7 linked regions of the Homo sapiens genome follow. The protein of the gene in region 7 purifies or fractionates together with the protein of the main gene of each other region. This does not show direct contact. Each region holds a gene or a part of one and is shown on either strand. Other genes may lie near its edges. The genes, in order: DKC1, NOP58, NUP153, RRP1B, TCOF1, E2F3 and NOLC1.

Region 1 (3,486 bases), on a different chromosome or scaffold from region 7:
TCTCTCATGACTGCAAGGACCTCTCACAGAAAGCAGGCAAAGCAGGAATTCACATCTGACAAGTCAGAAGCTCCTCCCACACAGCCTGTGCAGGATACTCAGTACCGCCCCCGGTTTCTGAGTGCAGACCTGTCATTCTGTGCTCTAATGCCAGCAGCTCCATGGGGTGGAGTTGCCAACCCATGCTTGACTGACTCTTTCAACACTGGGTGGTGCCAGGTTAAGATGCAATTCTGCTCTCTGCTGAATTTTGTATGGCCTCGAATGTCCAACAGCCATGGCCTCTGATTTCAACACATCTGTCCTACCATTTGACCCAGGGCGGGGGCCAGAATTGACACACACACCACCACCCATTCCATCACTGTGTTGCTGCCATAGCTGAGGTAGGAGTCGAGGCCCATCTGATTCCTGAGCCCACATTCCTCCTCCCAGCAGATAGGACAGAGAATACAAATCAGAGGAGCCTGCAGAGCCCAAACAAGCACCCCAGGGTATGAGGCAGCATTACCTGTGTATGCGCTGCACCTCTGATGCTAGCGTATATGGCTGGACTGCGGACAGTCACAAAGTAAGACGAATGCCAGTGCCTCTTAGGATTATCTCCCTAAGCACATTCCAAACTGAGGACAGCATGCCACTCACCTTCGCAGTTTTTGCTGCTTCGGCAACTACCTGCGGGGCTTTTACCACTTCAGCAACCACCTCTTTTTTGGCAGACTCACTGAAAAAGAGGTAGCAATAGGTCAAATTCACTGAATGGCTTTCCAGGGCAGTACTGATGTTATGTAGTGTTATCTGGCAAGTCTAAAGCCACCATCAAAATACTGACGCTGGACAGAAGAACTCACCACTTACTGTTGCAGACTGACTCCCTCTAGAGTCCCACGAGCCAGACTAGAAAGGGATAACTGTCTGCCGTGCAGGCCCACACCCCTAACTGGCCTGGGCAGCCAAAATCTCACGGGAGCTGAAGAGCTGGTTCCTGTGGTCCTGCATTTAGCAAGTTTGCCCCAAACCAAGTGACTCCCCCTCCCCTGGGCTCTACAACCTCCATGCTCACCTGTTCCTCACCTGTTGTCCATGTACTCCTGCGTCCAGATGGCAAGTGGGCTCTACCTTCCCATCCTCACCTGTTGTTGACATACTCCTGCATCAAGGCAGCAAGTGTGCCGTCTCTACCCACCCCGGCTCTGAAACATCCTGCCCTCACCTGTAGTCAACATACTCCTGCTTCCAGGTGGCAGGTGTGCTGTCTGTGGGCTTCCCATGCTTGTCCAGAAGGCCCTGCTTGATCATCAGCTTCTTCTGACTTGCCTGGTGGAACATCAAGGTGTCAACATTAGAATGGTGTCAATGCTGGAAGCGGGCATGGTGACTACAAAGAATAGAACAAGGTTCCTCCCTGGTGTATTCTCAGCAGGGCCTCAAACTCCTCTCCAGAGCATTCAGAATTTGCCCACTAACTCCAACACACACAGGACTTGTTGAAGATCACAAAGCTTATTAGTGAGAGCCTCTGCAGACATAACGTCCCCACCGCAGCCACTCTACTTTTTTGCCTTTGCACATGCTGCTTGCTCCCAATGCCCTGAACTCTCCCCTCCCCTCTTCACTTCACCAACACCTAACCCACTCTTCACACCGGTGTGGCTTAACAGACAATCCCTTGACCAGACTCCTTGACCACTGTGGACACTCCAGGTGACAGACACCTCTCTGCACTCCTTGGTAGCCACTAACGTGCATGAAATTCGCCATTCCACTGTGTGATTACGTGAGTAATGCCCAACTGTTTCCCCTCATTAGACTGAAATCTCTAAGGCCCAAGACAGGGCCTGTTTCCACTCATCGACAACCCAGAGCCCAGCACAATACAAGGCTGTGGTGGTGAAACACACCAAGAGCTGCCCAAGTATTCAACAATGCCAAACAAAAGAACCTGGCAGGAGCCGCCCCATCCGGGAGGGAGGTGGGGGGGGGTCAGCCCCCCCGCCCGGCCAGCCGCCCCGTCCGGGAGGTGAGGGGCGCCTCTGCCCGGCCGCCCCTACTGGGAAGTGAGGAGCCCCTCTGCCCGGCCGCCACCCCGTCTGGGAGGTGTGCCCAACAGCTCATTGAGAACGGGCCAGGATGGCAATGGCGGTTTTGTGGAATAGAAAGGCGGGAAAGGTGGGGAAAAGATTGAGAAATCGGATGGTTGCCGTGTCTGTGTGGAGAGAAGTAGACATGGGAGACTTTTCATTTTGTTCTGCACTAAGAAAAACTCTTCTGCCTTGGGATCCTGTTGATCTGTGACCTTACCCCCAACCCTGTGCTCTCTGAAACATGTGCTGTGTCCACTCAGGGTTAAATGGATTAAGGGCGGTGCAAGATGTGCTTTGTTAAACAGATGCTTGAAGGCAGCATGCTCCTTAAGAGTCATCACCACTCCCTAATCTCAAGTAATCAGGGACACAGACACTGCGGAAGGCCGCAGGGTCCTCTGCCTAGGAAAACCAGAGACCTTTGTTCACTTGTTTATCTGCTGACCTTCCCTCCACTATTGTCCCATGACCCTGCCAAATCCCCCTCTGTGAGAAACACCCAAGAATTATCAATAAAAAAATAAATTTAAAAAAAAAAAAAAAAAAAAAAGAACCTGGCAGGGCACGCAACCCAGTACCACTTACCTTTGGACCTAAACCCCACTTCCGAGGGTAAGTGTCTCTCTCCATGATCACTCTCTTGATCTTGGCTACTATACCATGGTCGCAGGTAGAGATGACCGCTGTGGTCATTAATGCAATAGCTACAGGCATTGAATAAAGAAAAGAATTATTTGAAGGGTGAAAGAATTGATAATTGATGAGCCCCAATTCTACTGTTGTATGCCACTTTAAAACTTTTAAAACTCTGAGCTACTACTTTAATTGGGGTTACCTTTGCTCAGGATGTGCATATGGAGGAAATACTCCATTATGAGAAGGAGGCCTTTGAAATGACGTTAAACTTCTGAAGTTAAAAAACACCTAACCAAAGCACCTAACGATACACATAACAGGCTTGCAGCTCAAGACGTCTATAAGAACGGCATGCACACTCCCTTTGGGGCCACAGAACCTTTGAAGTTTTAAGGATTCCTTTTCTGCTGCTGTCCATAAGCCGTGGCTGCCTTGCCTGCTCACAGAGCTAAGGAATCCTGATGACATGCTTACTTCTGGTACAAATTAGACCCATTAAATGAATAGCTCTAAGGTTCATTCACTAAGAGGGTGCGCAGAGCATTTAAAGTCTTAAGAGACAATCCAACAGTAGCTAAGCTTTCACAAGTTAAAAAACACTGGTACTTTACATGGAACCACAAAAGACTCAAAATAGCCAAAGCTATCCTAAGCAAAAAGAACAAACCTGGAGGAATCACATTACCTGACTTCAAATTATAGTATAGAGCTACAGTAACCAAAACAGTATGGTACTGGCATAAAAACAGGCACATAAACCAATGGA
Region 2 (4,323 bases), on a different chromosome or scaffold from region 7:
TCAAGTCCATAATATAGCACATCTACACATTAAGACGCAGTTCTAGTCTGGTTATATATTATTTTCAGTAAGAGAAACACAATGTTGCAAGTTGTATAAAACTTAGATGAGTGACAAGATGATTTTAGGGGTTTGTTCTGATGTATAATTTTTTTTTTTTTTTTTTTTTTGAGACGGAGTCTTGCTGTCGCCCAGGCTGGAGTGCAGTGGCGCGATCTCAGCTCACTGCAGGCTCCGCCCCCTGGGGTTCACGCCATTCTGTTGCCTCAGCCTCCCGAGTAGCTGGAACTACAGGCGCCTTCCACCTCGCCCAGCTAATTTTTTTGTATTTTTAGTTAGAGGCGGGGTTTCACCGTGTTAGCTAGGATGGTCTCGATCTCCTGACCTCGTGATTCGCCCGCCTCAGCCTCCCAGAGTGCTGGGATTACAGGCATGAGCCACCGTGCCCAGCCTGTATAAATTTAATCACACATGGTTGAATTAGATATGTTGGTAAAAATAACCCAAACTAGAAAAACTTAGAGTCACACAAAGCAATAAACAACTACAAAGCCTAGAGTTGGTATTAACAATTTATAAACTAATAGCTCTAACTTTGTATATCATGAAGTTTTAGAATCCAGAGACACCTCACCAAGTCTCATGACTATACTGAAAACACTGATTAAAATTTTTTGAAATTGTTCAGAGAATGCAGCTAACCATAACTGAAGTTCACTATTTTTAAGAGGACATGTATCAAATAGGGGATATGACTCATGAGTAAAATTCACATTTTTTCTAGCTGAAAAGCAAGTATATTTGAAGATAACATTTGGGTAACAAAATTGCCATATTTAAAAGATACTTTCGGCCTGGCGGGGTGGCTCACGCCTGTAATCCCAACACTTTGGGAGGCCGAGGTGGGTGCATCATGAGGTCAGGAGATCGAGACTATCCTGGCTAACACGGTGAAACCCCATCTCTACTAAAAATACAAAAAATTAGCCAGGTGTGGTGGCAGGCGCCTGTAGTCCTGGAGGCTGAGGCAGGAGAATGACGTGAACCCAGGAGGTGGAGCTTGCAGTGAGCCGAGATCCTGCCATTGCACTCCAGCCTGGGCGACAGAGCGAGACTCCGTCTCAATAAATAAATAAATTAATTAAAAAATACTATCACCATTCTAAAACTGAAGTTAAAATAACAAAGGAAATGTGATAAAATCAGGGCAATTCATGAGCACACAAAGGTCTTCAAAGACTATGTTATGTCAGCCAAAACCATTACTATGACAAATAAAACCATTGTGTTCCCAACTGCAACATCTTGAAGAAAACATTGCTAATAAAGACCATCTAAATAAGAAAGTTAGAGATATTGCTACATTTTCTGTATTACATTTGTCTCAAAGTTTTTATTTGTCTCAAATTTTTAATCATTTCTTTTCAGCCAGGGTAATGATAAATATTTGTATACAGAAATCCATTTTAAGTTTTATCATTTTAAGATAATTTCCATTTCTAAGTAGAAATAGTATACAACTATTACCATTGCAATCTTTAGCATTGTTGTTACAACAGTACTAGTTTTAAAACAAGTCTTTATATTTTATAGATACAAACTGAAATATTAACAGGTAAAAATTAAATGTCTAGGTCTTGCTTCAAAACAATACAAGGCGGCTGGGTGTGTTGGCTCACGCCTGTAATCCCAACGCTTTGGGAGGCCGAGGCAGGTGGATCACCTGATGTCAGGAGTTCAAGACCAGCCTGGCCAACTTGGTGAAACCCAGTCTCTACTAAAAATACAAAAACTAGTTGGGTGTTGTGGTGCGTGCCTGTAATCCCAGCTATTCAGGAGACTGAGGCAGGAGAATCGCTTGAACCCGGGAGGCGGAGGCTGCAGTGTGCCGAGATTGCGCCACTGCACTCCAGCCTGGCGACAGAGTGAGACTCCATCTCAGAAAAAAAAAAAAAAAGCCATTTACTGTGATTCCTAAAAGTATGCATGAACATGTGTTGCACAGACATTCAAAGTCTTGGAGAATATATACCTAAATGTTGATAAGTATATTGTTGATTAAAGTACCCTATGTTTCTTTTGCATTTAAAAAATTTCTCACATCTAGATGTGTCTCACAATTGACGATAGTTTTAGAGAAATCCATAATACTTTCATGTTAGGATGATCATAGCAGTAAATAACGAATATAATCTATTGAAAGTAGACAAAAGTTTTTTTTGTTTTTTGTTTTATTTTTTTGAGATGGAGTTTTTTGCTCTTGTTGCCCAGGTTGGAGTGCAGTCGCGCAATCTCGGCTCACTGCAACCTCTGCCTCCGGGTTCAAGCAATTCTCCTGCCTCAGCCTCCCGAGTGGCGGGGATTACAGGCATGTGCCACCACGCCCAGCTAATTTTGTATTTTTTTTTTTTTTTTTTTTTTGTAGAGACGGGGTTTCTCCATGTTGATCAGGCTGGTCTTGAACTCCTGACCTCAGGTGATCCGCCTGCCTCAGCCTCCCAAAGTGCTGGGATTACAGATGTGAGCCACCATGCTTGGCGCAAATTAAAGTTTTTAATGATTACAATACTTTACTGTAAAGGGATTAATGGCTCTTTTAAAAGAAAGGTTCTCGGCCAGGTGCAGTGGTGCACACCTGTAATCCCAGCTACTCAGGAGGCCGAGGCACTAGAATCTCATAAACCCAGGAGGTGAAGGTTGCAGTGAGCCAGGATTGCTCCACTGCACTCCAGGCTGGGCTACAGAGCGAGACTCCATCTCAAAAAAATAAAAAGAAAGGTTCCCTGCCCTACCCCCTAGGACCCCATAGCTCCAGCTACGGCCCAAGGCTGGGGCAGGAATATCTCTTGAGGCCAGGTAGATTCTAGACTGAATAGCCACTGTACTACAGCTGACTGGACTAGATCTGAATTCCATTTAGCTGTTAAATGGGCAATTCGAACTAGTAATTTGACCAAAATTACATGCAGGGTAAGAAAACTAGTTCATTATCTTAGTGAAAGAAATAGCTTCTACACCTTCATTTTACATGTAAAATTGTATTTGAAGAATGCAGCTGTATATGCCTCACCTGTACCATTTAAATAAAACTATTTAAACATTTTATTACAGGTTCTAAATGAGAAGAAACTTCAAGAGGTTGATAGTTTATGGAAAGAATTTGAAACTCCAGAGAAAGCAAACAAAATGTAAGTACTCTTGAAATCAATAATTTAGCAGTTAACATTTAGGGCTTGTTTTATTTTTTACATTTTTCCCTGATTTATATAATGTTACATTCGTAGTTTTCTGTTTTGAAATCTGTTTCAGGAATAATTTTGGTATGAACCTAATTATTACAAATGTTTTACTTGGAATATAGGCCATCTCAATTAATTTGAAGGCAGTAGTCTCCCCCTTACCCACAGGGATTATGTTCCAGAAGACCCTGTGGATACTTTAAACCTCGGATAGTACCAAATGTGATTGCTGTCAGTAGGAACACATTTGTCTTCGTGTCTTCCACACACAAATGTAATACCTTTTTTATCTTAACTAAGCACTTACCGCACACAGGGGTTGTAACCTGCTTTTTGAGTTTTGCAACATCAAAACTAGCATGAACTACTTTTTCTTTCATCACAATTTCATGGAAGATTCATTCTTAGTGTAGATGTTAAATCTTTGGTTTTTTTGTTTGTTTTTTGAGACAGAGTCTTGTTCTGTCACCTAGGCTGGAGTACAATGGCGCAATCTCTGCTCACTGCAACCTCCGCCTCCTGGGTTCAAGCTATTCTTCTGCCTCAGTCCCCCAAGTAGTTGGGATTACAGGTGCCCACCACCATGCCCAGCTAATTTTTGTATTTTTAGTAGAGACAGGGTTTCGCCATGTTGGTCAGGCAGGTCTCAAACTCCTGACCTCAGGCGATCCGCCTGCCTCGGCCTCACAAAGTGCTGGGAGTACAGGCGTGAGCCACCACACCTGGCCTAAATCTTCGTATTTGTATGTATATTTAAGGGACCACACTAGTATGTTCCCTTACCAGATAAGAAAACCTTGCTTAAGATGACACTGTTGCCTGGTGTGGTGGCTCATGTCTGTAATCCTAGTACTTTGGGATACCAAGGTGGGTGGATCATTTGAGGTCAGGAGCTCGAGACCAGCCTGGCCAACATGGTGAAACCCCCTCTCTCCTAAAAACACAAAATTAGCCGGGCGTGGTGGCACATGCCTGTAATCCCAGCTACTGGGAGGAAGCTGAGGCAGGAAAATCCCTTGAGCCTGGGAGGCGGAAGTTGCAGTGAGCCGAGATTGCGCCACTGCACTCCAGTCTGGGTGTCAGA
Region 3 (4,323 bases), on a different chromosome or scaffold from region 7:
GAAGGAAACCTCTTTATCAGTAGCTTAGATCAGGGGTCAGTAAACTTTTTCTGAAAGGGACACAGATAGTGAATTTTTAGGCTTTGCTGTGGTAAATTGTCCTTTGTTTTGTTTTTAAAAGTCCTTTAGCAAATGTAAAAACCATTCTTAGCTTGTATGAAAAAAGACCAAGGTCTGAATTTGGCCCAGCCCACAGGTCATTGTTTGCTATACCATGGTTTATATGATAGTATTGTTTTTATTTGTTTTGGTAGCTTCTTTGTGATACTCTGTCCCAAATAAGTATGTCCTGCCTGGTATCTGATAGCTGGAGTGTTCTCAGATTTGAAAAGGAGGGATATTTAGAGGTCGAATATTTAAATCATTCCAGAAGTCACCAAGTTTTTAACTTTTATTTTATCCTTATTTGCTTTATCCTAGATGCTTAATATAATCAGTGGGAATAGAAATGGAAACATTGATAGGATTGGATAGTTGATAGGATAGTTGTTAGGAAAACATTGTAGTGTAATGGAGTCAGCCTGAGTTTGGATCCCTGTTCTGCCTGGACTTGGACAAGTTAATTTACTCATCTGTAAAGTGAAAATTGTTGTGGAGGTTAAATGGGACAAGTGAAGATTTTAGAACAGGACCTGGCATATGTATATAGGTAAGGAGTTATTAAAAATTGAGTCCTTATTATATATATGCAATTGAAATTTGAAATTAAATAGAACTGTTTGATTTAGGATCTTTTTTTTTGTGGGAGACCACAGTTTTATTATTACTCAAATTAGTCTCCTGATTTAGGGTCTTCATATTGTCTCTGAATTTTCCTGCTTCTTATCAGAAGTTTTGTTTCCTTTAGGTGACTAAATTCAATACTTGCATGTATTAAATTGTTTAATGCAAAGTAGGTGTTTTGTTTGTGATGAGAGGTTTTGTGTGGTATTATATTAATTTACTTAATTTTTCTAATAAGTGACAAAAAAGTCCACTTGCTGTATCCATTTTCTGGGAAGTCCCTGACAAGGCAGATATCTTAGTTTGAAGTAAAATAAAAATTGTAGTCTGATGTCACTAATTAAAACTGTTTACTTTTCTTTTTTTTTGAGACAGAATCTAGCTCTGTCACCCAGGCTGGAGTGCCATGCTGTGATCTTGGCTCACTGCAGTCTCTGCCTCCCAGGCTCAAGGGATTCTCCTGCTTCAGCCTCCTGAGTAACTGGGGTTACAGGTGTGTGCCACCACGCCTGGCTATTTTTGTATTTTTAGTAGACACGGGGTTTCACCATGTTGGTGTGGTGGTCTCAAACTTCTGACCTCAAGTGATCTGCCCTCCTCGGCTTCCCAAAGTGCTGGGATTACAGGCGTGAGCCACCTTGCCCAGCCAAAACCATTTTCATTAGGCACAGAGTATTGCAAAGATTGTAATTATCTTGTATTTTCTTTTTTTTTTTTTTTTGAGACGAGTCTCGCCCTGTCACCCAGGCTGAAGTGCAATGGTGCGATTTCGGCTCACTGCAACCTCCGCCTGCCAGGTTCAAGCAATTCTCCTGCCTCAGCCTCTGGAGTAGCACGCACCATTATTCCTGGCTAAGTTTTTATATCTTTAGTAGGGACGGGGTTTCACCATGTTGGCCAGGCTGGTCTTGAAGTCCTGACCTTGTGATCTGCCTGCCTCAGATTCCCAAAGTGTTGGGATTACAGGCTTGAGCCACCACGCCCAGCTAGCTTGTATTTAAAAAAAAAAAAAATTATTTGTAGCTATTTAGCTTATCTTCATGGTTGTAATATATTTTTAAAAGATTCTTCTGTGTTGGGAAGTTTGGTTTCAAGTCTTGCTGACACATACCATTTACTGTCAGAAACAGGATGATAGGATGCCTTTTCTATCTATAGATATTTCAGTTTGCTTGATTTTGCATATCTTTTTCTTAGTGTGATTTAAGAAACAAACTCTTACTCCCAATTTTCAAACATGTTACCTGAGAAAAAGTGTGATAGTATCTTGTAGGTAACTTTTAGTGAGTTTAACTACTGTGAGCTTTTATTGAGTTTTCTTTTTTTTTTTTTAAGACAGTGTCACTCTGTTGCCCAGGCTGGAGTGCAATGGCACGATCTTGGCTCACTGCAACCTCCGCCCCGCTCTGGGATTCAAGTGATTCTCCTGCTTCAGGCTCCCAGCTCTTTTTTTTTTTTTTTTTTTGAGACAGAGTCTTGCTCTGTCGCCCAAGCTGGAGTGTAGTGGCGCGATCTCGGCTCACTGCAAGCTCTGCCTCCCGGGTTCACGCCATTCTCCTGCCTCAGCCTCCCAAGTAGCTGGGACTACAGGTGCCCACCACCACGCCCCGCTAATTTTTTGTATTCTTAGTAGAGATGGGGTTTCACCATGTTAGCCGGGATGGTCTCAATCTCCTGACCTTGTGATCCGCCCACCTCGGCCTCCCAAAGTGCTGGGGTTACAGGCGTGAGCCACCACGCCCGGCTGCTCCCAGCTAATTTTTGTATTTTTTCGGTAGAGACAGGGTTTCGCCATATTCCCCAGGCTGGTCTCCAACTCCTGGACTGAAGCAGAACCCCTGCCTTGGCCTCCAAAGCACTGAGATTACAGGCGTGAGCCACGGTGCTTGGACCTGAATCTAGTTTCAATAATCTGAATTTAACATCCAAATCTAAGACATTATTGGTTGTATTTTATAAGCCTATGCCATTCAGCAGCGAAGTTTACCCTATCCAATCAGTCCAAGTCCTCTAGCCATTTAAAGTACTTTTCTAGCTGAAGAATTAAAAACCTGCTCCCTGGGAGAATAAGATTCCAGAACCTTAAAACTGATGATGGACTGCATTTGATATTTATAGTTAAAGATCCAGTGAAACTATTTGAGAAAGGAGATTTTATAATCTGAACACTGCTAAGGATAATGTGAAGAAAAGGGAGTTGAACAGAACTGAAGTCAAGAAAACTAGTAGGAAGAAAAGAGCTTTGTATAGAAGGAAGGAAGGATATATAGGAATGACAAGGAGTTGGCCATACTGAAAAGATGCCTCTGGTTATTCCTGTGAAAAGGTTTATAAGAAAAGAATGTCGTTAATTACAAGTGAGTTCTGAGTTAGTGTTATAGAATAGCCTTCCCCCACCCCAGCTGTTTCTGAGTTAGTGTTATAGAATAGCCTTCCCCCACCCCAGCTGTTTCTGAGTTAGTGTTATAGAGTAGCCTGCCCCCACCCCAGCTGCCTTTCATTAATCCTTTTTTTTGAGATGGAGTCTCGCTCAGTCGCCCAGGCTGGAGTGCAGTGATGTGATCTCGGCTCACTGCAACCTCTGCCTCCTGGGTTCAAGCAATTCTCCCTCCCTCAGCCTCTCAAGTAGCTGGGATTACAGGTGCCTGCCACCACGCCTGGCTAATTTTTGCATTTTTTAATGGAGACAGGGTTTCGCCATGTTGGCCAGGCTTGTCTTGAACTCCTGACCTCAGGTGACCTGTCTGCCTCAGCCTCCCAAAGTGCTGGGATTACAGGCATGAGCCACTGCGCCCAGCTCATTAATCCTTCAACTCAGGTTAAATATAATTTGAAAAGCTAATGTATTCACAATACCTTATACGTTGAATGTTCCTGATATGTATGTAGTATTGAATTCTAATCCCCAGATTGAATTTTTAATTAGTCTAAATCTCAGTGGCATTTTTGACATGTTTTGCCAAATGAAGAACCCTTCTTTCTTGGAGAGAGAATACCCAGTGGATTTAGCCAGTTCACATTCTAAAATTCACTCCTTTAATCCTTGAACTTAAATTTATTATTTATGATTATGAAGTGTGGACTTTGCTTTAGGGCCACAGAGTATTTTTTAAGATTAATTTTTTTTTTTTTGAGACGGAGTCTTGCTCTGTAGCCCAGGCTGGAGTGCAGTGGTGTGATCTGGGCTCACTGCAACCTCCGTCTCCCAGGTTCAAGTGATTCTCCTGCCTCAGCCTCCTGGGTAGCTGGGATTACAGGCGGACACCACCTGCCAGCTAATTTTTGTAGTTTTAGTAGAAATGGTATTTCACCATGTTGGTCAGGCTGGTCTCAAACTCCTGACCTCAAGTGATCTGCCCACCTCGGCCTCCCAATGTGCTGGGATTACAGACGTAAGCTACTGCACCTGGCTGTTTTTTAAGATTTTATTTATTTGTTTTATTTTTTTGAGATGGAGTCTTGCTCTGTGGCCCAGGTTGGAGTGCAGTGGCGCCATCTTGGCTCACTGCAAGCTCCGCCTGCCGGGTTCACGCCATTCTCCTGCCTCAGCCTCCCGAGGAGCTGGGACTACAGGCATCCACCACCACACCCAGCTAATTT
Region 4 (4,323 bases), on a different chromosome or scaffold from region 7:
TCCTAGTTCCTGTGGGATCTGACTGTTAAAGAGCCTGGCACCTTCCTCCTCCCTTGCTATGTGACATGACAACTCCCCTTCCCCTCCAGCCAAGATGGGACACTCCCTGAGGTCCTCACCAGAAGCAGATGCTGGAGCCATGCTTGTACAGCCTGCAGAGCCTCGAGCCAAATAAACCTCTTAGCGTCAGGTGTTCCTTTATAGCAGCGCAACAGACTAAGACAGTGATGCAACTGGAAGTGCAGGAGCATTAACCAGCTTAAACCCAAAGAGAGGATTTGAAGGACCCAGGTTACTGCATGGGGTCAGGCTCAGGGCACTCCTTGTCCTTGCTGGGCAGCTACATTGGGATTTCCCTCCAAGGCTCTCCACCTTCAAGCAGGGTGTGGAGGGACTCTGTGGTCTGGGTGGGGCTTACCCCACGTGGAGAGGCGGCGGCTTCTGCCAATTCAGCAGAATTCCCTTGGCCACAGGACAGGTTCAAGAAAAGCCAAGTGACCCTCTGCAGGTAAAAATCTTCTTGCTCAGTCCTTAGGAGTTTCTAGCTCTCTCCTTACTGGACTTGAAGAGAACACACAGTTTGTACCTGCTCCCAGCCACCTTGTAACACAGGTGGAGCCTGTCTGAGAATGGAGACAATCTTTGGGGCAGCAGAGGTTGCAGTGGAGAAAAACAAGGTGCTGGCACCAGCAGTTGAGCTCCTGCACAAAGTTGTGCTTCACTTTCCCCCTTAAAACTAGCATGGCTGCCAGGCCTGGTGGCTCACGCCTGTAATCCCAGCACTATGGGAGGCCAAGGTGGGGGGATCATGTGGTCAAGAGACTGAGACCATCCTGGCCAACATGGCGAAACCCCGTCTCTATTAAAAACTACAAAACTTAGCTGGGTGCGGTGGCAGGTGCGTGTAATCCCAGCTACGTGGGAGGCTGAGGCAGGAGAATCGCTTGAACCTGGGCAGCAGAGGTTGCAGTGAGCCGAGATTGCACCACTGCACTCCAGCCTGGGCGACAGAGTGAAACTGTCTCCAAAAAAAAAAAAAAAAAATCCTTAATAGCATGAAATATCCAATCTGTTTAGTTTTTCTCATCAAATGTTTTTTATGAGCAATCCAAATGAGGACCACCCACTGCATTTGGTTAATATGTCTGCCAAGACGCTCTTAAAATCTAACAGTTCTTACCCATCTTTTTCTGTACAGTTTATTTGTTGGGGACATAGGTCATATGCCTTGTAGAGTTTCACATATTTGGGGTTTGTTGACTGCATCCTGTTGTCTCACTTACCATGTTCCTCTGTCCCCTGTATTTCCTATAAACTAATATTAATAGTTAAGATTTGACACAGTTGGGTGTTTTTTTTTTTGACACTTACTTTTGTAAGAATACTTCATAGGTTGGTGCAGCGTTCTTCCTGTTGGCATCACCTCTGGCATCTGATGCGTGATTATTGCCTGTGCATGTTAATGATCGGTCGGTGGGTTTGGGTGTTGATGGTCTGACACATCCACTTTCAAGTTTCTTAATATCGTTTGTTTGTTTGTTTGTTTGTTTGTTTGAGAGACAGAGTTGCTCTGTTGCCCAGGTTGGAGTGCAGTGGCACGATTATAGCTTACTGCAGCCTCAAATTCCTGGGCTCAGGTCATCCTCCCACTTCAGCCACCTGAGTACTTGGGACTACAGGCACATGCCACCATGCTCTGCCAATTTTTTGGTTTTGTTGTTGGTGTGTGTGTGTGTGTGTTTAAGACAGGGTCTTGCTCTGTCGCCCAAGCTCCATGGAGTACAATGTTGTAGAGATTGGGTTTTGCTGTGTTGCCCAGGCTGGTCTCAAACTCCTGAGCTCAAGTGAGCCGCCACGCCTGGGTGATATCTTTTCATCTAATGTTTTAGCAGCTATTTATGATCCTTGCCCAAAGCCTTCAATTCACTGGGGATATATGTGGTCTTTGAACATGATTAAATATAAGTGCAGGTCACTGTGGCCAAGAAAAAAAAAGTTACTGCAATCATGACCGCAGTTGGCTCAGCTCTAGTGGGGTTTATTACTCATACCATACTTACATTATCCACGTGAGGATCCCCAGGCATGACTTGTTCATAACAAGAGGGCAAGAGAACCAGTTGGTACATCTTCTCTCCAACTGTGAAAGGGAATATACTTTAATAAACTAGTTTTATGTTAGTTCCTGATATCCTGGTTTTACATGGAAAACTATCATAAAAGAATCAAAATGCAGGCCGGGTGTGGTGGCTCATGCCAGTATTCCCAGCACTTTGGGAGGCCGAGGCCAGCAGATCACCTGAGGTCAGGAGTTCCGGACCAGCCTGGCCAACATGGTGAAACCTTGTCTCCACTAAAAATACAAAAAATTAGCCAGGCGTGGTGGCACGCGCCTATAATCCCAGCTACTCTTGAGGCTGAGGCAGGAGAATCGCTTGAACCCAGGAGGCAGAGGTTGCAGTGAGCCTAGATTGTGCCACTGCACTCCAGCCTGGGCAACAGAGCAAGACTCTATCTCAAAAAAAAAAAAAAGAATCAAAATGTACCATTATAAAATTGTTGATGGGAGAAAGACCCTTAGCAAAGTGGAAATCAATACCTGTAAATTAAGGTTAACGCACTCTGAATACACTAAACAAACTTTGGTCCATTAAAAGGTCTTTTTGTCACTTTTTTTTTTTTTTTTAAGAGACGGACTCTCGCTCTGTCGCCCAGGCTGGAGTGCAGTGGCGCAATCTCAGCTCACTGCAAAGTGCAAACTCCACCTCCTGGGTTCACACCATTCTACTGCCTCAGCCTCTGGAGTAGCTGGGACTATAGGCGCCCGCCACCATACCCGGCTAATTTTTTTTGTATTTTTAGTAGAGACGGGGTTTCACTGTGTTAGTGAGGATGGTCTTGATCGTCTGACCCCGTGATCCGCCCACCTCAGCCTCCCAAAGTGCTGAGATTACAGGCATGAGCCACCGCGTCTGGCCCTTTTTGTCACTTTTTAAGCATCTTTTGGAGTATTAAGATCACATTGATTCTAAATATTTGTTTGCATTCATCTAGTTTATAGCACTTTGTTGCTCCAAAAGATTTCTCCTAGGATCTCCTAGTAAAATCCTAATAAAGACCATTTGTAACACACATCAAGACTTGAGGATTCTGTTTGTGTTCTAATTTCATGTATCCATAGGCTCGGAAACTCCAAGACTGTACACCTACCTTATCATTTTGTGATTCTTTATGTCAGTCAGCAAATACTTTATGACACCTGGGGTCTACTCAGGAGATTTAAGGCTGAACGAGACTGGTCACTCAATCATAGATCATGAAGGCAGAGGTAGAGCCCTGAGTAGCTAGAGTCAGAACAAAGCCAACCCTGGTGATGCTGCAGTAAATGATCACCGTTACAGGGAGGGTGATTGACAAAGCCAACCTGGTGATGCCACAGTAAATGATCACCGTTGCAGGGAGGGTGATTGACAAAGCCAACCTGGTGATGCCACAGTAAATGATCACCGTTGCAGGGAGGGTGATTGACAAAGCCAACCTGGTGATGCCACAGTAAATGATCACCGTTACAGGGAGGGTGACTGGGAGGCAGCCACTTTTGACCTTATACTAGGATCCTTAAAAGGTAATTTTTGCAAAAATATTCCAAAGCAGCGTCAGTGTCCCCAGGCCCTTTCCTAGGCCTTTGACTTTCAGATGTACTGTTTGGAGCTCCTGTGTCCTCAGCCTGGCTGGTTTTCTGTTCCTCGGAAGTGGGGCTGCCCGTTGCTGGGGCTTCATATGACTTGAGCAGGTCCCCCGCATCTCTTGTAAGATTTGCAGTTTTACTTCACAAGACCAGCGAAAATGTCAGTGTGCAGGATGGCTGCACGTGGTGGGCGGGGAGGGCGTTGATGAGGAGCCGATTTCATAAGTGGCCACTTTGTTCATGAATTTTGTGTTGTGATGACATTTGCTTCCTCACGCTGAGGCCGGGCCACCACTGCCACCCTACCCTGTAGCTGATAAAGCTGCAGGTACAGTAGTAATTTATTTGTGTTTCTTTTATAACAATAAGGAAATGTTTGCTTCAATTTTTTAAAAAGACGTGCAAACGAAAGAGAATTAAAATGTATGTGATACTTCACCACTTTCTAAACTTGAAGAAAAGAGATGCATAGACTCTAAGATGTTTGTATTGTTTTGCCTTCCAGGAGGTTTCAGTCAGGAAGAACTTCTGAAAATCTGGAAGGGGCTCTTCTACTGCATGTGGGTGCAGGATGAACCCCTTCTACAGGTAACATGCGTTCCCTTTGTCATGCTCCCGGGTTCTTGCTGTGGATG
Region 5 (4,323 bases), on a different chromosome or scaffold from region 7:
GAGCTGGATGTGGCAAAGGTGGCCACACCCATGCAGGTGCTGGGGTTTAGGCATGGGGCTACTCTCCACCCCTCCCCTCTGCCTCACCTGAGCAGGCGCCTCCTCCTCACTGTCCGATTCCTCGCTGCTGCTCTGCGAGTCCTCCTCCCGCTTCCCCGCCTGGGCCTTGGCAACTGCAGGCCCTGTCTTCCCAGGGGGCGCTGGGGCAGCTCCTTTCCTGGGGGACTCCTTGGCAGGGGCTGAGGCAGCTCCGACCTGAGAGGTTTTTCCTGAGGCCTTCGCCTGGAGAAACAAGACAAGGGGAGACAGCCCAGAGGATGGACGTGTGAGGAGACACAGGACACCACGTACAGAAGACCAGATAGGGCAAATGATGCCACACAGTGAGAGGGGAGTAAGGGGCTGGGGTCTGAGGCACGCCCGGGGCTCTGGCCCAGAGTGGGAGAACAAGTCCTGAGAAGGCCTTCTGGGGACGGGCCTGGCTGCATGGAGTCTCCCTCCTCAGGCCTCACCTGAAGCAGGGCCTTGGCAGCTGGCGTCTCCTCCTCACTGTCAGATGACTCCTCGCTGCTGCTCTCTGAGTCCTCCTCTGGCTTCCCTGCCTTGGTCTGGGAGGCTACAGCCCCTGCCTTCCCAGGGGGTGCTGGGGTAGCCCCTTTCCCAGGGGTCCCCTTGGCAGGGGCTGAGGCAGCTCTGACCTGGAGAATTTTTTCAGAGGCCTTTACCTGGTGAAAAAGAAAGGGCAGCTTGCTCTCCTGCTTGTGAAAACTCTCTGGTGATGCCTTTAGGATAAAGTCCAGAGGCCTTAATGAGGCTCCTAAGACCTCCCCTGCTTCCCTCCCCACTCCCCACCTTGACTGATACTTTGGCCACACTGGCCTCCTGGTTTCTCAAAAATCGATCAGCTTCACACACTCTCACTCCTGGAGCCTCCATGCCCCCTGTTCCATTTCACTTAGCCACTGCCTCCTCTGTCTCTGGCTCCCTAAGAGACACCACTTCCTTAACATGGTTCCCCCTGGTGCCCCAGCACACTGGGTAGTTAGAGCCTGTCCTCTGCTGGGCTCCCACTGGCCAGAGAGCTCTGGAGGCACAGGCACTGGCTTATCGGGAGCATCATCAGACTGGGCTGTGGGGAGGGGGTGTGCAAAGGCCCAGGGAAGGGAAGGAATGAAGAGGCAGTCTGAAAGTGGGGAAGGGACTGAGGGAGGCCCTCACTGGACTTTCTGCACATGGACAGCAGCAGGACCCCTGGAAGCCCACCCTCAGCCTCATGGGGCAAGGTTTGCACACCTGGCCCCCTCTTCACTAACTCCTCGGTGGGGCTCTGCACTGTCTTGGGGCTTTGGCAGGGTGGCTGCAGGCCCTGTCTTCCCTGGAAGGCCCTGGGTGTTCAGCCCTGGGCCAACAACCCTAGAAAACAGCAGCTCTGATCTTCTAAGAAGCTTCTCATGCAGAAAGTGCAGGCTGCTCCACACAGGTCTTGCTTGGCTAGCTCCTTTTTAAATTTTTGAGCCAACATGGAGAAAGCAGATTTTACATAAAAGTTCACATTTATGGCCAGGTGCGGTGGCTCATATCTGTAATCACGGCACTTTGGGAGGCCAAGGTGGGAGGACTGCTTGAGTCCACAGCTTGTGAAACACAGTGAAACCCTGTCTATACACACACACACACACACACACAAGCTGGGTGTGGTGGTGTGTGCCTGTATTCCTAGCTACTCAGGAGTGAGGCTGCAGTGAGCTATGATTGCCGCTACTGCACTCCAGCTTGGGCAACAGAGCAAGACTCTGTCTCAAAAAAAAAATTCACATTTGTGTTCCTTCTCAAAGTGGATGCCCATCCAACACTGTGTAGCCCCCAGACACTGCAAAATAGACAGCCGAGGCGTAGAAGTTCCCTGTAGATGGGGTGGGAACAACAATTTGTCACAATTCGTAGTCCTACTTCTACCTCAGGGCCTTGACACTTGCTGAGCCCCTGCCTGGAATGACCTTCCTAAGAGTGCTTCCTCCTTCTGGTCTTTACTGAGACGCCTTCTCCCAAGGCCAGCCCAGAGCACTCTGCTTCAAGTTGCCATTCCTATGTCCCCCACTTCCTCTTTACCATTTACCAGCAGCTAACGCAGGGGATCTGCTTATCTACTGCATGCCCCCGCCTTGTCCTGCCCCAGGCCTGGGGCTGGGTGGGTGACCCTCACTCTTCCTCCTTCCTGCTCTGACTTCCATTGCTTTCCAGCCCCCCTGTCTTGCCCTTGGGATACACCCAGGGCCTTGGGGCTGCAGCCCTGCCCACTCCCAGCAGATGGGGAAGGGAACTGGATTCCCTTTAGCTAACGTAGTGTTTGCCTGCTCAGGGTCTGGTTTGTCCTGAGAAGTCAGAGGATTAGGCAATCAAAACTTCTCAAGTCCCTCACAGCAGGACTGGCTGGGACGAGGACAGCGGCCCATTTACTAGGCAGAGAAACTGAGGTAAAGTTGGTCACAGACAAAGTGGAGTGCAAGACTCCCCTGTGGGAAGCAGGCTGTTCTTGCTCTTCAACTTCACACCATAGTCCTCCCTCTCCCCAACTCCAGTGGCAGAGGTGCTCATGGCAGAGTGCTCAGGCTGCTGGGGGACCCGCAGGTCCTCCAAGGGGCAGCCCTCCTCCAGGCCTCACCTGGCTTCGTGTCCCTGCAGGGGCCTCCTCCTCACTTTCAGATCCCTCCTCACTACTCTCTGACTCCTCTTCTGGCTTCTTGGCCCTCTTGGCTGGGGGCAGGGCCCCTCCTTTGACCTGGGGTGTCACATCCCCCACCTTCCCAGGGGCTGGGGCCGCCTTTCTTGCTGGAGACTCCTTAGTAGAAACTGATGAGGCTTTGACCTGGGCTGGTTTTACTGAGGGTTTCCCCTGGAACAAGAGGATGGAATTAGAAAATGAATAATAATTACTGTTTCCCCCTAAGGTTCTGTATTAGGGGCTTCAGCAGTTGATAAAGCTCTTTCCTAATGTCACTGGATTTTTAAGCAACTCCCTGAGACGGCTATTAGCTTTAGATCCATTTTCCAGAAAAGTACACAAGGCTTAAAGAGGTAAAATCACTCATGATCAATATGAAGGGACAGAGCCCCACTGGAACCCTGGACTGTCTGACTTTGGAACAGATCTCAAAACCATTACGTTCATCTCCCACCTGGCACACACCGGGCTTGGCCTGAGAGAAGGGCTTGCATCTCAATCAGGAGAGCGCATCCTGTCTGCCCCTTAAACTCAAGTATCTGATCACAGCAGCCCTCCTGAGGGCCAGGAGTTCAGGATGTGAACACCACCTCTGCCACTGGCTTGCCACACCTTGGGCAAATTCCTTCCCTCTGTGAGCTCTTTCCTACACTTCCACAATTCAGACATTTCCCAGGCAGTCAGTGCCCTACTTCTACCTCTGAGATCCATCAGACCCCTTGCGGCCCTGGGTTTCTGGGGCGTCTGCTACTGGAGCTCTGCACAGCCTCAGCCCATTGAGGTTGTGTGTTTATGGAGGGCTGGGAGTGGTCTTCTTCCCTTTGGCAAGGCCTGGGGTGACAGAAGCCAGGGATGTCCTTACAGCTGGTGGTATCTAGGGCGCAAGGGTGAGGACGGAAGGTGGAGGGCAGCCCTTGGTAAGGCCTGGGGTAGATGGGGGTGAGCTTTCAACCTTCACAGGGTTACTGGGCCAGGCAGCACAGTAAAGTGAGAAGTTCCCTGGGCACCAGATCAGTTCATCCCTGACTTGTGCTGGTTTTCCCTTGAAAACATCTTTCCAACTGTGGACACCTTGGTCTCCCAGCCCCCAGCCTCTTATGCCAGTATCAGTATTACTCCAATAGTCTCCTACATGGTCTTACTGCTTTTATTCTGCACTGCCCTCCAACCCAGGCTGCAGCCAGCAATCTTATTAAATGCAAATCAGGCCATCTCTCCTTGCTGGCATGGCTTCTCACAGCCCCTAGAATAAAACCCAAATTCCTTATGGTGGTCCTCAAGGTCAGACAGAAGATCTGGCCCCTGTCTACCTAGGACTTCATCTTGTGTCACTTTCCCCATAATTTATTTGTTTTTTTAAAAAATAACATCTTGTAGAGACAGGGTTTCACTATGTTGCTCAGGCTGGGTTCAAACTTCTGGCCTCAAATGATCCTCCTGCCTTGGCCTCCCAGAGTGCTGCACTTACAGGTGCGAGCCACCGTGCCTGGTTTCTCCCTCTCATTTAAAGATCAAGGTTTTGGCCAGGCGTGGCGGCTCATGCCTGTAATCCCAGCACTTTGGGAGGCCAAGGCACATGGACCACTTGAGGTCAGGAGTTC
Region 6 (4,323 bases), on a different chromosome or scaffold from region 7:
AGCAAGGTAAAACGTGGTGAAAGCAAGGTAAAGAAGGTAGATTTCACAATTTTGTTTTTTAAAAAGGGGAATCTTCCCTGAATTCTTTGAGGTACTAAGTACGTGGTTTAATGCATATTTTCATTCTTGTTAGCAGTTTAAAAATAATGTTTCAGAGACTGTATTCACGATTGCTAAAAAGCATTTTTTCTACTAATCATTGTTCATGGGACTTAACAATGGAAGATAACTGGGAAAGCAGTAAATATAGGAAACCACTAATAGTGTCTCCTTCTTCCTACCCTGACCCTCTCTTTGGCTTCAGAAAGTGACGAGGAAAATGTATCTTTCACAAAGAAAAGTTATACCACAGAAGGTACTAAAAAGCAACAACTGCCTTTGGGGACAGGAAACTTACAGAGTGGGGATTATTATAGAGGGATAACATACCGAGTTTCTATTTCAATAAGAGGGAAATTGGTTTATATTCTGTTCACACTTGTTTCAAACCCTCTCCTCTAAAAGCAATGTGTTTTTGGAATTCAAGGAATGTACGTTCTTTCCCCAACCTTAACTGGGGGTCAGTCTTATGGCCACCATATTTGTCTACAATATAACTTTTAAAAAATATAATTTTTGCCCTCAAATACTCTCCTATCCAATGCAATGTAACTTTGAAGGAGAAGTGATGAAGGCCACTGGTTGCCAGATTGTATCACACAGCCAGATGCACTTTGCTTTGATGAAGAATCTAAGTGATGCAGGCCCCCACTTAGCTTTGTAAACTAAGGCAGGGGTTTATGTCAGCTCGAGGTAGAAAGCAGTGAGAATTGGCAGCTGATGGAATAGAAAGGGGACAAAAAGAATAAAAAATAATTGACTTTAGTCTGCTTTCCATTACCGTAGCCCAACTCTCTGGGGCCATTTGTGTGGTCTAGACAACATTCTTAGAACTTGACAGTCCCTGAGAACGATATTCTAGGTTGGCATGGGCAATAGTTGGCATTTACACTGGTCTTGGAATCATAACATTTGAGAAGTGTAAGGCACAAGAGTCCTCATCTGCCCAATCCCCTTCATGTTGCAGGTGAGGAAATTCAGGCCCAGTGCTGTTAAATTACTTGCCCAAGGTCACAGGTCTTTGCTAGTGGCAAAGCCAAAACCGAAACGGGAGACTCTTGAATTCTTAGAAGCCTCATTCACCAAGAGAAGGTTAACTGTGTCTCATGAACCCTATATGGGAAAATTGGGGTGTGTAGGACACATTTTAGATTTCCTTCAGGAGTGGTTACCTTTTTTAAAAATGCGCACATAAAGAAGTGTCCTTTAAACAGTTGGCTGTGGGGGTAATGACTTATTCCCAAAGATACAAAATAAGCAAGGCTACTTTGGATGTTAAATGAAAGGGAATTATTTAAAAAAGGAAAGAATGACTCTTCAAAACGTGATAGTAATATTTTTAAAGATTTATTTGATATTCGCAAATTTGTCTTCTGTGGTTATATCAATTCTGTTGCTCAAAAAGTGACACATGCTTCATAGAGAATAGAATCTAAAAGGATTTTTGAGACTTTCTTGGGGAGAAGGACACACAGTGCCCCTCTGGTAGTAACGGAGTTTTGTCCTGGGCCACCAACATCCTGAGTGACTGTCATGCTTTCAGAGGTCCCCAGCCCTTGCCCAGTAACATTGAACAAGGTGTTCTTCCTCTGTGGTTAGCTCCAAGATTTCTGGTTTAGCAAAGTGGCTAATCAGTTAACTCTTTAAGAGGAAATTGTCATTCCTTTAGCCAACGCTAATTTCCTTAAAATGCCTTCTTTTCCTTTTTGGAACTGAGAAAGCTTAAAAATAGAATTGCTTCAAGCCCTGAGGCCTGAAAGTGAAACATAATCTAACGTGGCTGTAGTGCACTGACTCGTTAGGGGCAGCGATATATGGCTTATCTGTAATCCACAAACCAGAAAGGTGCCCAGTGTAGATACGGTCTAACAGCCAGTGAGCATTAAGTACCAACTGATGAGAGTAGTAATCAGTGAAGCTGATTTCCTCTGGAAAGTTTTTTGGCGAGTAGAGTTTGTCTTAGAGAGTGGAGGATTTGAATGCCTCTTGACTTTCTGCTGAGGAGAGCTTCTGCCTGCTCTAGTTTTTATGATCCTGAAGGGTGGTAGCTCTGGACTCTGAGAATGATGGGCAGTGAACTCAGGGTCTGTATATTTCGTTCCACTCTGCTCTTCCCCATTTCTGATGCTTTGGGGGCTCCATTTCTGATACATAACCAGAGCAGCATCCCTGAGGCCCACACTATCTCCTGTGTGCCTTTCTGCATCTGGCAGTCCCTTGGAGAGAAGGAGGCTCATGTGTTTATAACCTGCACCCTGTCCTAAAAGGCATAGTGAGGGGCAGCTGAGTATAAGGTCAGGCCACTTAGCCTGGAGCCAGAGTGCCTGTGTTCTTGTTCTGGCTCTGCTCACTAGCCCTGTGACTTTGGGCAAGAAACTTGGCCTCTATGTTTTCATTTCCTCATCTGTAAATTGGGAGGAATGATAGTACCTACCTTATGGGGTTAGGAAGTTGCAATGAGTTCTTATTTGTAAAGTGCTTAGACCAGTGTCTGGCACGTAGGAAGGATTATGTGTTAAGTAGAAACATGGTATAATTGCCCTTCCTTCCACAGGCATCTCATGGGCTGTCCTTTTGTGATCCATTTTCTTGGTTTGTTTTTGTTTTGAGACCAAGTCTTGTTCCGTTGCCCAGGCTGAAATGCAATGGTGCAATCTTGGCTCACCGCAACCTCTGCCTCCTGGGTTCAGCCGATTCTCCTGCCTCAGCCTCCCCCGTAACTGGGATTACAGGTGTGCGCCACCACGCCCAGCTAATTTTATTTGTATTTTTAGTAGGGACGGGGTTTCACCATGTTGGTCAGGCTGGTCTCGAACTCCTGACCTCAGGTGATCTGCCCGCCTCGGCCTCACAACGTGCTGGGATTGTAGGCATGAGCCACTGTTCCTGGCCTGATCTATTTTCTTAACTAGCCCTTAGTGTTCATTTCACCCCATTGCACCTCTCTAAAAATGGTGATGATGGGAAGGAGAAGTAAACCGTGGAATGGCTCTCGCCTAATGCAGTCTTTAGGGTCTAGGGTCTTTGTATTTCTTTATAAGCTGCCCATTGACTTGGGAAAAAGAACTGAAGAATAAGCTTCTTGTAGTAGTGCTATCAGTAGTGATAGTGTCATGAATAAAACCTTTATTTCTGTGATTAAATGTATTAATAAAGTGACACTACTAGCATGAATGACACTATTAACATAATTTCAATCCTGTACAGTAAACCATGGCTTAAGACTGAATGGCAAGAATCAGGGTGTCTGAGCTGCTGGGCCCTGCCAGACTCGGAGCCCCTGCCAGTGTGTGTATATCAAGGCAGGGCGGGGGGTTGTCTTGCTCTCCAGAGGCAATGGAACCTGCCTCTAGGCCTCCCTTTTCCCTTCTCATCTCCTCACCCCTCCTTTTTTATGTTAGATCTATTCCTACCCCTTCCCCTTCGCCTTGCCCTCTGCCTGGCTCTTAGAAGGAAGCAGACTTGCCACCTTCAGTGGCTGCTTCCCGGACTTACCAAATTAATTACCACCTTTTCCTGCCATCAAGGGATGGTGAAATCTTGCCTTTTCGGTCTTGCTTCCCATTCCTCTGCACTCGGCTGCTGCGACAGTGTGGTGCTGCAGGCACCGCAGATTTCCCTCTGGTGTGTTTGCTCGTAGCTTCTCCCTCTCCACCTTACTCCTTTTGTTGCCCTCCTCCCACTGGCCCATTGAGGCCCACATCAAGGGAAGGCGTAGGCACAGCCTCCCCCAGTTTCCCAGGGGCTTGGGCCTCTCCCTTCCCTTGGGTTACTGCTTCTTTCCTGTAACACCTCATGGTCTGCCTCGTAGCCTAATCTTGCATGTTCATGACTTACTCCTCCTCCAAACCTGTAAGCTCCAAGAAATCGGTCTGGCTTGCTTTTTCATCATGTGGTCCCTGCAGTGCCCACTACACTATAGGCTCAGCTACCTGAGAAGAGGCATTTTCATTAGACACCTTCCATGTGCTTGGTACCCCATTAGTCCTATTGGGGATACAAAAGAAGTATGAGGTGTGATCCGCCCACTCTTGAGTTTACAGTCTGTTGAGGAGACAAGCTTTAAACACAAGTTGATCTGCAAGCAAGACTAAACAGGCGGTAGGGAGAAAACAAGACTCATCTAGTCCTCAGTTGTGTGGTGTCGACAGAAAGTGCCAGAGGAACAGGTGAGAGTCACCAGACTCCAGCTGGGCCGTGAGATGGGGAGGCCACGGTTGTCAA
Region 7 (4,323 bases):
TACCACAGGAAAATGCTGACCCAACCAATCCTGCCAGGGAAGGAAGACACACACACATCACACCCTGGTCACCTCTGCCCTGACAGAAGTTATGGTCCAGACCTTCTTGGGGGTGGCTGCTGCCTTCTCCTCCTCTGAGTCATCACTGCTACTGCTGCTGCTGCTGCTACTGCTGCTACTGGCTGCTTTACCATTGGCTATTTTAGGTGCTGCTCGAGCTGGAATACCCAAGAAAAAGAAAGAGTAAGGAGTATTAGGGCAAGTCAGGACCATGAAAAACCTCCTTCCTATGAGCAGAGAACTTAGGAGTCCACCATTTTTTTTTTTTTTTTTTTTTTTTTTTTTGGAGACGGAGTCTGGCTCTGGCTCTGTTGCACAGGCTAGTGTGCAGTGGTTCAGGCAACTCTCCCGCCTCAGCCTCTGGAGTAGCTGGGATTACAGGTGCCCACCACCATGCCCAGCTAATTTTTATATTTTTAGTAGACACAGGGTTTCGCCATGTTGGCCAGGCTGGTCTTGAACTCCTGACCTCAAGCAATCCGCCCGCCTCAGCCTCCCAAAGTGCTGGGATTATAGGTGTGAGCCACTGTGCCTGGCCAGGAGTCCACCAATTCTTTCAACTTTAGAGCAGCCATCGAGGAGAATGCCAGCCATGGTTTACCACATCAAAGGATACCTTTCCTATCCCATGGCAGGAATAAAACTGTCTTCTTAGAAAAGATGACATAAATAATCTCAATACGCCCTCTAAAATCTTTCACTTCAACCTCCATTCAGAGAAATAACCTAACCCTCATCACAAGTTACAGAAAAAAAGAAAAATTCTCATTTGTCTCATAGAATGAACATACAAGAGTAAAAATGGCAGTGAAAAGCACAACAAATAGATATTTAAGTGATTACAGTGGAATGGGATGTGTGAAAACATAAAATGTCTATGAAATGTCACAAAATACCAAATGGATACCATTAAAAAAAATACACATTTTTTCTTGCTGCAATAACTTTCTCTATTTACTAGCTCCTATGAAATCTTGTTATTTATTAGTAAAACCTTTAAAATTAAAAGACCAGTAATCAACACCTCCAGTTCAACAAACAGTACCATTTCACCCCTGTGCCAAATCGGCAATTTTAACTCCAGTCCCCAGAGCAATCTGGTCCCCAGCCCAGCCTCTTGGGAACAGAAACAGTACCTGGTTTGGGAGGGGCTTTAGTCTGAGCTTTAACTGTCACAGGTGTTATCTTTGGCTTCTGGTTCTTTGGTGGCTCATCCTCGGAGCTTGAGTCAGAATCAGAATCAGAGCTCTTGGCCTTCTTAGGAGGAGCTTTGGCTGCCTTGGCTTGGGGCTTAACTCCCTTCTGTTAGAAAAGACACAAGGAGAGAAATCAGCAAAAGCTTCCGGGTACCCAAAGGGCATCCTAGGTTCCTTTTATTTTTAGGGGCCTAATGGAGCAGTAAGAGCAAAAGAAAGCTAAGGACAGGATACGGAAAGGGCAAAAAACAACAAAGTTCAGCCACTTGATACACTGGCCCTGTTCCTGCCTTATCCTGCCAAAGCTCCCAGGAAAACACTCTCTCTTATTCTTGGAGCCCTGAATAGTGTCCCAGAAGAACCCAAACTCCTCAAGCAGAATGGGTTTAATTTCCTCTAGATTCGGAGCCTGACCTCAACCTCACACATCCCTTCCAGACCTCATACTTTTATCAGCTCCCTGAAAATCCCCAGATTTTCTTCCTCATAATCACCTATTGTATTGCCGCCATCACCCCTTGGTTACAAGCTAGAGGCCAAGATTTTAGGTTTCTTCCTTTCTAATCCTTAAACCCCTTTTTCTTCCCAAAGCTGCAAACCTGGACAGGCTGTTTCTTTTGGTCCTCCTCATCATCATCATCACTGGACTCTTCACTGCTGCTACTCTCTGATGCTTTGGCTGCAGCCTTCCCAGGAGGCAGACCGACTCGCTTGGCAGGTACAGCTGAACAAACACACAGGTCCCAGTAAGAATCAGCCATGTGAAACAAGCAGGCTGTAAATTCTTTTCCTGGCACCACCAAGCCCACCTGCTACTCTGCCTTACCAGCCTTCTTTGCTGGAGGCCCTTGAACTTCCTCCTCCTCCTCGCTGCTGTCCTCACTGTCACTGGATGAGGCCTTCTTCTTAGCTTTCTTAGCCACTGGTCCATTTGCCTGTAACTTTCGCTCTGGGACCTTGGCAGACCTGCTGAGGTAGATTGGACCAATTTCTAGGGGACTGGAATCTTCCCAAACCAAGAAACACAGCCCAGCCTATCTTGGGGGAGAAAATAGCCAAAATGGAACAGGAAAGGCTTACTTGAGCCAGAAGCTATAGATGTCTAAGAGGGAAGAGGCATTGGCATCCTGCTGTGTCTGTAGAAGAAAAAGAGCTGGGTAAGGAAATTATTTTATCCTGGTTATGCTTTCATTAAATGTGGCCTGTTACATACATAATTACTAAATTTGGTATAAATGTTACATCTTCATAAAACTTTTGCTACGTGCATAAATCAGGAGAAAAATATTCTATTTGTGGATTTCCCAATTTCTGATGTAAAAAACGGGCTACTCCTATGTTTGCGGCACCATCTAACCATCTAACCCCCTGCCTGCCAATCTATATTGATCAAAGTCCTAAAACAAAACAAAACAAAAAATCAGCCAGTCACGGTGGCTCATGCTTGTAATCCCAGCACTTTGGGAGGCCGAGGCAGGCAGATCAAGAGGTCAGGAGTTCAAGACCAGCCTGGCCAACATGGTGAAACCCCATCTCTACTAAAACAAAAATTAGCCCAGCATGATGGCAGATGTCTGTAGTCCCAGCTACTTGGGAGGCTGAAGCAGGAGAATTGCTTGAACCTAGAAGGCTGAAGCAGGAGAATCACTTGAACCTAGGAGATCGCGCCACTGCACTCCAGCCTGAGCAACAAGAGCAAGACTCCATTTCAAAAAAAAAAAAAAATCACTTTTGACTGGGCACAGTGGCTTATGCCTGTTATCTCATGTTATCTCAGCACTTTGGGAAGCTGAGACAGGAGGATCACTGGATGCCAGGAGTTCAAGACCAGCCTAAGCAACATAGCAAGACCCCCATCTCTACCCCTCTGCCAAAAAAAAGGCTCTCTCTTTACTCTAGCAATGTACTATCTAAGAATGTAATCTTATCCATTACTTGAGGGTACAAACACTAATACAAGAAGGTTTTTCCTGCAATGTGGATTATAATACCAAATCATTAGAAATAAGCCTCCAGGCGGGATGCAGTGGCTCACGCCTATAATCCCAACACTCTGGGAGGCCAAGGCGGGCAGATCGCCTGAGGCCAGGAGTTCAAGACCAGCCTGGCCAACATGGAGAAACCCTGTCTCTTAGCCGGGTGTGGTGGCAGGCGCCTGTAATCCCAGGTACTCGGGAGGCTGAGGCAGAAGAATCGTTTGAACCCCAGAGGCGGAGGGTGCAGTAAGCTGAGATCGCGCCACTGCACTCCAGCCTGTGCGACAGACCAAGACTCTGTCTCAAAAAAAAAAAGAAAGAAACAAGACTAGTAAGTACTGTATTGAATGTAAAGAACTGCATTTAAGGGCCAGGCACGGTGGCTCAGGTCTGCTGTAATCCCAGCACTATGGGAGGTCGAGGTAGGCAGATCATGATGTCAGGAGTTTGAGACCAGCCTGGCCAACATGGTGAAACCCCATTTCTACCAGAAACACAAAAAATTAACTGGGCATGGTGGTGCACACCTGTAATCCCAGCTACTCAGGAGGCTGAGGCAGGAGAATCGCTTTAACCCAGGAGGCTGAGGTTGCAGTGAGCCAGTATCACACCATTGTACTCCAGCCTGGGCGACAGAGTAAGTCTCAAAAAAAAAAAAAAATGCATTCAGGCCGGGCGCAGGTACGCTAACACTTTGGCAGGCCAAGGCAGGAGGATCACTTAAGGACAGGAGTTCAAGACCAGCCTGGGCAAGACAGTGAGACCTCCATCTCTCTCTCTCTCTCTTTTTTTTTTTTTGAAATGGAATTTCGCTCTTGGTCGCCCAGGTTGGATTGCAATGGCACTGCGGTTGCTTGGCCTGTGGTGGCTAAACGCCTGTAATCCCAACACTTTGTGAGGCTGAGGCGGGTGGATCATCTGAGATCGGGAGTTCGAGACCAGCCTGACCAACATGGAGAAACCCCGTCTCTACTAAAAATACAAAATTAGCTGGGCGTGGTGGCGCATGCCTGTAATAATCCCAGCTACTCAGGAGGCTAAGGCAGGAGAATCGCTTGAACCCAGGAGGTGGAGGTTGTGGTGAGCCGAGA

The links.
Region 1: the proteins of NOLC1 (region 7) and DKC1 purify together in Homo sapiens (affinity purification with western blotting; 2 studies listed by BioGRID and IntAct, with this or other methods). This does not show direct contact.
Region 2: the proteins of NOLC1 (region 7) and NOP58 fractionate together in Homo sapiens (co-fractionation; 3 studies listed by BioGRID, with this or other methods). This does not show direct contact.
Region 3: the proteins of NOLC1 (region 7) and NUP153 purify together in Homo sapiens (affinity purification with mass spectrometry; one large-scale study listed by BioGRID and IntAct). This does not show direct contact.
Region 4: the proteins of NOLC1 (region 7) and RRP1B purify together in Homo sapiens (co-immunoprecipitation; one large-scale study listed by IntAct). This does not show direct contact.
Region 5: the proteins of NOLC1 (region 7) and TCOF1 purify together in Homo sapiens (affinity purification with western blotting; 4 studies listed by BioGRID and IntAct, with this or other methods). This does not show direct contact.
Region 6: the proteins of NOLC1 (region 7) and E2F3 purify together in Homo sapiens (pull-down; one large-scale study listed by IntAct). This does not show direct contact.

Annotation. Positions count from the first base shown.
Region 1 is NC_000023.11:154,772,433-154,775,918, reverse strand, and holds part of DKC1 (H/ACA ribonucleoprotein complex subunit DKC1), read right to left. Parts: intron 2,789-3,486; coding exon 2,670-2,788; intron 1,318-2,669; coding exon 1,214-1,317; coding exon of another isoform or gene 1,210-1,213; exon of another isoform or gene 725-1,209; coding exon 646-724; intron 1-645.
Region 2 is NC_000002.12:202,272,002-202,276,324, forward strand, and holds part of NOP58 (nucleolar protein 58), read left to right. Parts: intron 1-3,111; coding exon 3,112-3,188; intron 3,189-4,323. UniProt on the Homo sapiens protein: Required for the biogenesis of box C/D snoRNAs such as U3, U8 and U14 snoRNAs. Part of the small subunit (SSU) processome, first precursor of the small eukaryotic ribosomal subunit.
Region 3 is NC_000006.12:17,696,603-17,700,925, reverse strand, and holds part of NUP153 (nuclear pore complex protein Nup153), read left to right. Parts: intron 1-4,323. UniProt on the Homo sapiens protein: Component of the nuclear pore complex (NPC), a complex required for the trafficking across the nuclear envelope. Functions as a scaffolding element in the nuclear phase of the NPC essential for normal nucleocytoplasmic transport of proteins and mRNAs.
Region 4 is NC_000021.9:43,665,691-43,670,013, forward strand, and holds part of RRP1B (ribosomal RNA processing protein 1 homolog B), read left to right. Parts: intron 1-4,193; coding exon 4,194-4,276; intron 4,277-4,323. UniProt on the Homo sapiens protein: Positively regulates DNA damage-induced apoptosis by acting as a transcriptional coactivator of proapoptotic target genes of the transcriptional activator E2F1.
Region 5 is NC_000005.10:150,370,576-150,374,898, reverse strand, and holds part of TCOF1 (treacle protein), read right to left. Parts: intron 2,894-4,323; coding exon 2,663-2,893; intron 726-2,662; coding exon 513-725; intron 283-512; coding exon 88-282; intron 1-87.
Region 6 is NC_000006.12:20,407,931-20,412,253, forward strand, and holds part of E2F3 (transcription factor E2F3), read left to right. Parts: intron 1-4,323.
Region 7 is NC_000010.11:102,155,088-102,159,410, reverse strand, and holds part of NOLC1 (nucleolar and coiled-body phosphoprotein 1), read right to left. Parts: intron 2,393-4,323; coding exon 2,337-2,392; intron 2,226-2,336; coding exon of another isoform or gene 2,223-2,225; coding exon 2,083-2,222; intron 1,981-2,082; coding exon 1,856-1,980; intron 1,363-1,855; coding exon 1,197-1,362; intron 219-1,196; coding exon 103-218; coding exon of another isoform or gene 73-102; intron 1-72. UniProt on the Homo sapiens protein: Nucleolar protein that acts as a regulator of RNA polymerase I by connecting RNA polymerase I with enzymes responsible for ribosomal processing and modification.